Regions from separate parts of the Homo sapiens genome. Here region 1 is linked to region 2. A link means that fine-mapping ties the variant in region 2 to the expression of a gene that starts in the linked region. Tissue or cell type: regulatory T cells. Region 2 holds a variant in brackets; the other region holds the start of a gene. All regions are shown on one strand. Distances are from middle to middle.

Region 1 (5,152 bases), 920 kb before region 2:
GAGTTTTATTATTTTATTCTTATTATTTTGAGACAGAATCTCCCTCAGTCATCCAGGTTGGAATGAAGTGTCATGATCTCGGTTCATTGCAGCTTCAGCCTCACAGGCTCAAGTGATCCTCCCACCGCGGCCTCTAGAGTAGCTAGGACTACAGGTGCACACCACCACATCTAGCCAATTTTTTTTGTGTTTTTTTTTTTGTTTGTTTTTGTTCCTCGTAGAGACCAGGTTGTGCCATGTTGTCCAGGCTGGTCTTGAACTCCTGGGCTCAAGCAATCTGCCCATCTCAGCCTCTCAAAGTGCTAAGATTACAGGCATGAGCCACCCCGCCTGGCCTAGAGCAGAGTTTTAGAGAGTGGGTAAGATTTCTGCAAATATTCTCTCTTATCTGCAAATCTCAGATGCAGGTAACAATTATTCCAGAAAGCAGAGACTAGGTACTAATAAAGGTAGTATAGTCAAAGCACATTCAGAGATTGGAGCCACTGGACAACAAGAAAACAACTGACATAGGAAAATATACTGCAGTTGCAAATAAGGTAAATTAGGGCAAAATTATTTCATTTTATTCAGTAATGCAAACATTTATTTATTCAACAAATATTTTCTTAAGTATTTGAGTATCTACTAAGTGCACGCACTGTGCTAGGTGTCAGCATATTTATGAGTAACTCAGAAAAAGGCCCTTTCTACTATGTAAACACTAAAAAAAGTAACTCAAATCAGGGATGATAGCACGACTGATTCTTATCAGTCACTGAATCAATTAATCTCTGGCAACGAGGGGTACTTGAGTTTGCAACTGCTGCCCAGAACCTGGAATTTAACGTTTTTGGGAGACAGCCGGTATTTCTAGATTACACTGTGTCTCAACTTCAATTCAATTGCTTCTCAACTCACTATTTAAATTAAAATGAAGTGTTAACTTTTTTATATTAGAAAGCTGCAAACCTGTATGATAATCTTGTAGGTAGGGTGATGAGGGACATAATATTTGTGGCTCCATTTTACAAGTTTTGGCTGATGTAATAATTTTGTTAGCATGCATTAACTGAAATAAAGAAGGAAAAACAGACTTAAAAGAGACATCGGTGGGTGGGTTTTGTTTTGTTTTTGATAAAAGAACTCTTATAGAAAAGGAATCGCTGCAAATTTCTTTTAGCTAGCTAGCTCTCTGGGCGATTAAAATGATTGATACATTTCTAGAACACATGCACCGAGATACACCTGCACTCGTACTTTGTCCGTCAAAACAATCTTTGTTTTCTCTCAAGCTAGGACTTGCTGTGCCTAAGACACACCTCGTGCAGCGGTGGCGGTGAAGGTGCTGGGGTGACAGCCAGGAGGGCACTTTCCCTTTCTCGGGCTCCCTAACCAAAACTTTGCAGCCACCAGCCCAAACTCACGTTCCTGCTCGTTCTTCTTTCCCCTGCCTCAACTCTCCCCGCACCCTTCGCGCTCTGTGCGCCCACCCCTGCTTCCGTCGGTCAGCTTCAGCCGACCTACTACTCAACCTACCGGCCCGCGCCCTCCGCCTCCACCTGCACCACTCGCCCACCCCGAGAACCCACCTCTGCCGCCCCCGGCCCGCGCGCCCCGTCGCGGCCCGGGGCTCCGGGGCATGCGCGTTGCGGCGCCACCGCCCTCCCCCACGCCTTCCCGCGGCAGAGTTATGCCAAGTATGTGAGGAGCCGGCGAGGGCCAGCGCCGGTCATGGGGAGCCGCCGCCGCCTCCGCCTCCGCCTCCGCGAGCGCGGTTTTCTCCCCAGCGGGGCTCCGACCTCTCCCCCTGGCGGGGGTGAGCCTCGCGGCTAAGGCAGAGGGGATGGCGGACCCTCTGAGGAGGACGCTGTCCAGGCTCCGGGGAAGGCGGGGTCCCCGCGGCACCGGGGGGCTAGGGCTCCGGGCGGCAGCCGCAGCTGCGGTGGCGGCCTCTTCGGCAGCCGCGGGAGACGCCTGGGGTGCCGCAGACACCCTCCCACGTGAGCACGCCGGGGGACACGGGCGGAGCCTACAGCAGCCCTCGCCGTCACCTGAGGCGTGGGGTCCCGGGGCGCGGGTCCCCGGAGGGCACCCGGAGCAGTTGGGGGCGCTCGGGCCTCGGCCGCGCGGCGGGCAGGAGGCCGCCCCCCAGAGCCATGGGCTCGCTCACGCCCCTCCGCACTCCCCGGAGGGCTCCGAGGACAGCGGAGAGGAGGAGGAAGACGACAAGGACGAAGACGACTACGACGCCGACTACTACGAAAACCTGCCCGGCGGCTCGCAGTCTGCGCCCGAGCCTGAGGGGGCGGAGGCGGAACGGCGTCCCCCGCCTCCCCCAGCGGCGGGCTCCTCCCTGGGGGCGGAGGGCGGCCGCCTGGAGACAGGCAGGCTGCGGACCCAGTTGCGAGAGGCCTATTATCTGCTGATCCAGGCCATGCACGACCTGCCCCCTGACTCGGGCGCGCGGCGGGGCGGCAGGGGCTTGGCGGATCACAGCTTCCCCGCGGGAGCCCGGGCTCCGGGCCAGCCGCCTTCCCGCGGCGCCGCGTACCGCCGAGCCTGCCCCCGGGACGGGGAGCGGGGAGGCGGCGGACGCCCTCGGCAGCAGGTGTCCCCGCCCCGGTCGCCTCAGAGGGAGCCGCGGGGAGGCCAGCTGCGGACTCCTCGGATGCGGCCGTCCTGCAGCAGAAGCCTCGAGAGCCTCCGGGTGGGTGCCAAGCCGCCTCCCTTCCAGCGGTGGCCGAGCGACAGCTGGATCAGGTGCGGCGCGCACCGGGACTGGGACGAGCCCCCGCCACGTGGAGGCAGGATGGACGGCTGGAGTGGGGACCGCGCCCGGGCGGCTGCACCCACCGGCCTCCAGCCTCCAGGCTGCAAGGACCACGGCTGCTCCTCGGGAAGCCCTTTCAGGGATCCAGCGGGGTCCTCTGTGATACGCAGTGGCAAAGGAGACCGCCAGGAAGGCCCCTCCTTCCTCAGGCCGCCGGCAGTGACAGTCAAGAAGCTGCAGAAGTGGATGTACAAAGGGCGTCTGCTGTCCCTGGGAATGAAGGGTCGTGCCCGTGGGACGGCTCCCAAAGTCACAGGAACGCAGGCAGCCTCCCCAAATGTGGGCGCTTTGAAAGTGCGTGAAAACCGTGTCCTGTCGGTGCCTCCAGACCAAAGAATTACGCTGACAGGTAGGATACTTTGCGATGAAAATGCTAGCACCGCGAGCCTTACTGTTTACCGACTGGGCTTCTGTCTTAAGAGCCAAGAAAAAGTTATGTTTTTGCGACAGGTACGTTACCGGGCGAAAGTAAGTGTCATGTAAGTGGCAGCTTAAAGTAATTTCGGGGTTACTTAATGTAATGCATTTACTCGTTTTGCTTTTTTTTTTCTTTTTAATCAGACAATGGCATGAAGAATTGAGGTTGTGATTTCTTCTCGAAAAACCAGTGTGTCTATTCCCTAAGTATTACCTAAAGGAGTAAAGGTTAAGTATAACACACTTTTAGTAGGTTTACAGATGGGCGGCACTGTCTTGATTTTTATTCTTTGTAGCTCTAGGCAAATCCGTAGACTTTTGTGGAGTTTGTAAATTTGAATTTGATTCAAGGTAGATTTTATAGGCTTCATAAACTGTCATTTTACTCATTACAACTTTTTTTTTTTGCCTCTCCCAGGCACGCACACACATGCATACATACACACAACCAAAAACCCAAACAAATCAAACAAAAAAAACCCTACCATAAGTAGAATTTTTTAGTCAGGTAGTATTTCACATACACCATCTCTCCACCTGCCTCCCCCCGACAAAGAAACCTCAACAAAGTAATCTTTTTATTGTGAAAAATCAAGGACACTAACATTTTAATCAAAAGAAAAATGTTCCTCAGGTAGTTTTGTTTTTAAAGCAGTCATTTGCAAACTTAAATCCTATTTATAAGAGAAGTAAATTAGTTTTTTAAAAAGTATATTGATCCTTATAATAGGATTAAGCTCCCTATTTTGTATGTGCATGATTTTTAACTATCACTGAAGGTTTAGGTTATCAATTCTAGAAACCAGTCAATTATGTTGTAAATATCAAAATATCTTTCCTGAAAGGAGTATAATATCTTCAAAGTGAGCCAAAACAACATGGTCTTTTGAATACTCTTACATATAAAAATTTTTAGTGATCATAAAGACTTATAAGTCAGGAATAATTTGGAAAACATTAAATCCTGAAATGTAAAAGGTATTCACAGTACTTGGCGGTTTCTCTGGTAGTAATTATAAATCCTACAGGACTGGATTTATACACATTAACTTTGTTTAACCAATAAACACACAACAGTGGGGAGAAACAAAGTTCACAAAACTTCTTATCAAACAATGAAGACAAATCAAATGATTCATTCAAAGTGTGTGCCAACTTGCAAAGTTTTTTCCTGTCTATACGGCTCTAATACACACCTGTCAAATTTTATTCTCAAGGTTAAATATTCCATTTCACTTGAACAAAAGGATAATAGAATGTAAATTCTTTGTTGAGAGGTGTACTTTATACTAAGTTCATATTAAACATGCATTTCCAGGAGTAATTTGTAATCATTTATTATATTTTATTGCCACAATATTTTTACCTCCCCCCCTTTGGCTTAGTTTTAACTCTTGGTACCATAGTTGAATTTCAGCCATAACAAAAAATAGTCAAATATTTTTCACCCTTTTGTCACAGAGCTAAAACACTTACCATGTGATGGCTTTTAATGCCCTCAGTAGTAAACATTCAAGGATTTTTAAAGTAATAAATATAGTTCCTTTAAGAATGAATTTGATTTTTGCATTAAGCAACTAATTAAATGAAACTGCTAACTTAGAAATTAAAATGAAACAATTATTATGTGATAATATTTTAGATATTTTATGAGAAATCTAAGCCAAAGCTACCATAATCTCTGGTTTAAACAACTCTCAGATGTTACTTCCTTTTAAACCACTAATTCATTTTTCAGGAGAGATGAAAATAATTTGTGCAGTGTTTACATATCTAGTATAGATTTGGAGAGCTTTTTAAAAAAATTATTTTTCATGAAGTTTAGTTGGTCTTACTAAGTCCATTCTGGATACATTAGGTGGTTCTCATACAATTTTTATAGCCCCCAAAATGGAGATATGCTGTCATTTAACAACAGCTACA
Region 2 (5,152 bases):
TTCAAACGATTCTCCTGCCTCAGCCTCCCAGGTAGCTGAGATTACAAGCGCCTGCCACCACACCCGGCTAATTTTTTGTATTTTTAGTACAGGTGGGGTTTCACCATGTTGGCCAGGCTGGTCTCAAACTCCAGACCTCAGGTGATCCACCGGCCTTGGTCTCCCAAAGTGCTGGGATTACAGGCGTGAACCACTGCGCCCGGCCTGGATTAGCCTTCTTAACTTACATTGACTTGCTAAACCCCTCTTTGCTTCCTCTCCAGGCACTCCTCTCCTTTAATATCTCCCTTTTAAGTGACTGTTTAATGGGGCTTTTCTGCAGCCCACATAACTGGAAGTGGTGATGCTGCACATTCTGAGCACCTGCTAAGCCTCCCTCTAAATTCTAGACAGTTGATGCCAAGTCTCCATTCAGTACCTTGAGTAGGATTCTGCACTCCTCACCCCTAGACTGTGAGGATTCAACATGAATGATTGCTTTTTTAACCCTTTTTGTATTTTTATTGACTGGTTAGACTTTGGGCATTTAATTCCCTGTGATGCAAACTCTCTCAGTTGTACATACTTAAGTCTGTCCATATCTCACTGAATTACTGACTCAGTCAATATAGTTTTGGTTGGCTTAACCATGGAACCTGTTCTGTTTGCTATCTCTAACTATCTTTTCTCCCTAACAAGGAAACCAGGAAGTTGGGGGCAGGCAAGTATCTGGTACATTCAGTGACTAACTTTCTTCTCTTTCCTTTTTTAATTTAGTATTTTATTATGAAAGTAATACATGCTCATCATCAGTAAATGGTTCAGAATTGGGGGATTTCCCAATCCCATCTCCTGCCAGCAGTGTGTTAAGTATTCTTCCAGTTGTTCTCTAGTCATTTACTAAAAACAAAATAAGATGAAATAAAATAAGGCAACATAAAAATCACACAAAACACACTGTATACACAAATAGAATACTACCAAAAACACTATTGCGTAATTTGACCTTTTTCATTTAATAATTATTGTGATCATTTTCTATATCAGTATATTTGTCCATTTTTTTTTCCAGATGTTTATTTCTAATGAATTGGACATTACATTTCCAAAGTTATAAGATGGCCAACAGACCATGAAAAGACAATTATTTAGTCTCCTGCTTGAAACCAACAGCTTCAGCAAACTGCTGGCCTTGAATCAGGACCAACCATTCTTTTTAATACATACGGAATACTTTTACTAGAACATTCTGGCTTCAAGGTATAGCAACCCAACTCATATACTACTTTAAGCAAAAAAGATAATTTATTGGTTCACAAGAGTAGGAGGAAGAGATGTGGGGTTGACCTTGGAAGGTATCAGTCCAGGGAGCCAGTGGTGTCATGGGGATGCCCTTTCTTTCCATTTCCAGATTGGTACTAATGATTTGTTTGGTTTCCTTCTTTTCTACAGCAAAGCATACTTATTTCATGCAATAGGGACAGAGGGTCACTCCTGCTGATATCTTCTTTTGCATCATCTCACATCTACCTACCTACTGGTTGGATGATCCTAAGCTAATTACCTCACTCCTCTAAACTGCAGCTGTCACATAAGCAGGTATTCTTGGGCTCTCTCTCCTTAGCTCTTTCTTGTGGTCCAGCCAGAATCGTGCCAGGTGTGGAAACTGGAAGTCTAGAAAGAAAAGTTTCCCACTGCTCTGATGCAGGTCCTCCTCCTGGGTGAGGAAAACAACAACATCCTTGAACCTAGGGCAGCACCTTGGTGTCCATCTCCTCTTGCCTGTGCCTGGTCTTGGGATATTGGTGCTGGGCCTTCATTTTATTGGGTGCACCTTTGAGAGTAGATGAAGAGCTACCAAATTATAAATCCCTGATTGGGTGTCTCTCTTAATAATGAACAGCTTAGGAACCCTTCTACCTTGTTTCTGGGGCCAAGGCTACTCTTCTCACAGGAGTTTCCAGAGTTATGTTTCATTCTTATAAAATTATGCTTCAGAAGCCATAATACATGGGTGCCCACTGGTGAGGATTTCTTAAGATAAAGATCCTGGGCTCTACCCCTTGAGACTGAATCAGTAGGTCTGGGGTAAGGCCCAGAATTTATACTTTAAAAAAGTAACACACCAACTTTCAGTTCCAGTCTGGCATGTAAGAAGCTTGGAAGTTGTCACTCAGCCCTAACAACAAGTAAAAAGCTGAATAAACCAGGCACAGCGACTCTCATCTGTAATCCCAGCACTTGGGGAGGTTGAGGCGGTTCCAATCACTTGAGCCCAGGAGTTCAAGACAAGCCTGGGAAACATGGTGAAACCCCATCTCTACAAAAAAATACAAAAATTAGCCTGGTATGGTGGCGCACACCTGTAGTCACAGCAACTTCGGAGGCTGAAGTGGAAGGATCACTTGAGCCCAGGAGTTGGAAGTTACAGTGAGCCATGATAGTGCCACTGCACTCCAGCCTGGGTGAGAGGGTAAGACTCTGCAACAACTCTTTTTAGATCTCTAAGAGAGGTTAGATTATAGGGCAAACTGCTGTCCCCCAAATTGGAGAGACCAACAGGGGAATACAGAGAATCACAACTCTGTGAGCAGGAAACCATGAGTAGTAACCTCTGCAGCAACCGGTGCCCATGTAGGAAAATCTTAACTGTAATTGATGAATTGCTGGAGGCTGAGTGTGGGCAAGTCAAAAACTCCAGGGGGACTCAGTCATTAGGAGACCCCCACATTTTTGTGTTTTACCTTTAGAAGCTCTACCACACCCCCACAGTGAATATTGGAGAAAAATCCTGTCATGCTTCTGCCAGGGGAAGGGGAAAAGAACTATTTAAAAATACACCAGAACACTCTGTTCTTCTGAACGTGGTCTGCTCTTAGGAGGAACTGCTTAGCCAGAGCCTAAACTTCAGGGGTTTTACCAACGCCTAACTGACCTGGAAGAAGGGAAATACCCAATTCTAAGTAAACTAGGAATAGAGGGAAATTTCCTCAACTTGATAAAGAATATCTGAAAAAAACAAAAA[CA/A]AAAACAAAAAAAACCCAAACACCCTACAGTTAACATCATACTTAATGATGAGAAACTTGAAGCTTTCCCATAAAACCAGGAGCAAGGCAAAATGTTTCCTCTCTCCACTGCTTCTGAAGAGCAGATGAAAAATTCTAGATAATACAGCAAGAAAGAAAAAAGAAATAAAAGCTACAGATTGGGAGGGAAATAACAAAACTGTCTTTGTTTGCAGATGACATGATTGTCTATGAAGAAAACCTGAAAAAAATTGGCAGAAAAGTCTCCTGGAGCTAATAAGTAATTATAGGAAGGTTGAGGAATACTAGGTTAATATACAAAAGTCAATTGTTCTCCAATATACCAGTGTCTTAGTCTGTTTTATGCTTCTACAACAGAATACCCAAGACTAGGTAATTTATAAAGAACAGAAATTTATTTCTTACAGTTCTGGAGGCTGAGAAGTCCAAGGTTGAGGGGCTTACATCTGGTGAGGTCCTTCATGTTGTGTCATCCCACGGTTGAAGGCAGAAGGGCAAGAGAGCATGTATATAGAAGGAAAAGGAAGGAGAGGGCAGGGGGGAGGGAAGGAAGAGGAGGTGGGAGGGAAGGAGGGAGGCGGAGGGAAAGGGAGGGGAGGGGAGCCAAATTCATTGTTTTATTAGGAACCCTAACCCACAAGAAGCATGAATCCATTCATTAGAACAGAGCCCTTCATGTCCTAATCACCTCTTATAGATCCCACCTCTCAGCACTGTTGCAATGGGGATTAAATTTCTCTTCATAATATATTCAATCCATGACAACCAGCAATGAACAAATGAAATTTGAAATAAAAAAAAGTATTTCCCCAAAATAAAATATGTATAAATCTACCAAAATAAATACAAGATCCATGTGAGAAACACTGAAAAACTTTAATGAAAGATATCAAAGAGGAACTAAACAAATGGAAAAATACTACGTGTTCGTGGATGGGAAGATTCAATGTTGTCAAGATGTCAGCTGTTGCCAACTTGATCTATAGATTCAGTGTAATCAAAATTAAAATCCCAGCGAGCCATTTTGTGGAGATTAACAGGTTGATTCTAAAGTTCATCTGCAGAGACAAAAGACCCAGAAGTGCCAACACAACATTGAAGAAGAATAAAGTTGGAGGACTGACACTATCTGACTTCAATAGTTAATATAAAGCTATAGTCATCTAGACAGTGTGGTATTGGTAAAAGAATAGACAAATAGATCAGTGGAACAGAATAGAGAGCTCAGAGATAAACCCTGCAGATAGTGTATGTCAAAGGAGCAAAGGCAATACAATGGAACAAAGAGTCTTCAACAAATGATCCCAGAACAACTGGACATCACATACACACAAAAAATGAGTAAGACACGACCCTTACTTTCTTCACAGAAATTAACTCAAAATGGATCGCAGACCTAAATGTAAAATGTAAAACTGTAACACTCCTAGAATGTAATGAGACAGGAGAAAATCTAGATGAGTATGGGTATAGTGATGACTCTTTAGATACAACACCAAAGACATAATCCATGAAAGAAATAATTGATAAACCAGACTTCACTAAAATTAAAAAACTTCTGCTTTACAAAAGACAATGTCAAGATAATGAGAAGATAATCCAAAGACTGGGAGAAAATATTTGCAAAAGACACTTCTGATAATGGACTGTTTTCCAAAATACAAAAAAAACAAAAAACAAAAAACAAAAGAAAACCTCTTAAAACTCAGCAATAAGAAAACAAACAACCCAATTAAAAAAATGGGCCAAAGATCTTAACAGACACCTTACTAAAGAAGATATGCACATGGCAAATAAGCATATGAAGAGATGTTCCATATCATATGTCATCAGGGCAATGCAAATTAAAGCAACAATGAAGTACCACTACATACATATTAGACTGGTCCAAATCTGGAACACTGACAACACCAATTGGTGGTAAGGATGTGGAGCAACAGCAACTCTCATTCATTGCTGGTGGGAATGCAAATTATACAGCCACTTTGGAAGATAGTTTTGTAGTTTCTTACAAAATAAACATTCTCTTACTATATAATCCAGCAATCATGCTCTTTTGGTATTATGTCTACACATAAACACGCATATGGATGTTTATGGCAGCTTTATTCAAAATTGCTAACACT

What was found. PIP is the estimated chance that this variant, and not a neighbour inherited with it, causes the effect.
Region 1: it holds the start of SYDE2, and the variant in region 2 is fine-mapped to the expression of SYDE2 in regulatory T cells (Schmiedel 2018, PIP 0.92).

Annotation. Positions count from the first base shown.
Region 1 is chr1:85,198,261-85,203,412 of GRCh38, reverse strand. It overlaps SYDE2 (synapse defective Rho GTPase homolog 2), which reads left to right and starts at 2,397. Exons shown (of 7, transcript NM_032184.2): 1 at 2,397-3,161. The coding sequence starts at 2,417. It overlaps LOC124904207 (a long non-coding RNA gene), which reads left to right and starts at 3,171. Exons shown (of 2, transcript XR_007066199.1): 1 at 3,171-3,262; 2 at 3,374-5,152. RefSeq lists a silencer at 1,509-2,658 and an enhancer at 2,671-3,282.
Region 2 is chr1:84,273,355-84,278,506 of GRCh38, reverse strand. LOC124904808 (small nucleolar RNA SNORA2/SNORA34 family) reads right to left here and starts at 1,186; the gene lies at 1,050-1,186. The variant CA/A (reference allele first, on the strand shown) is at 3,005.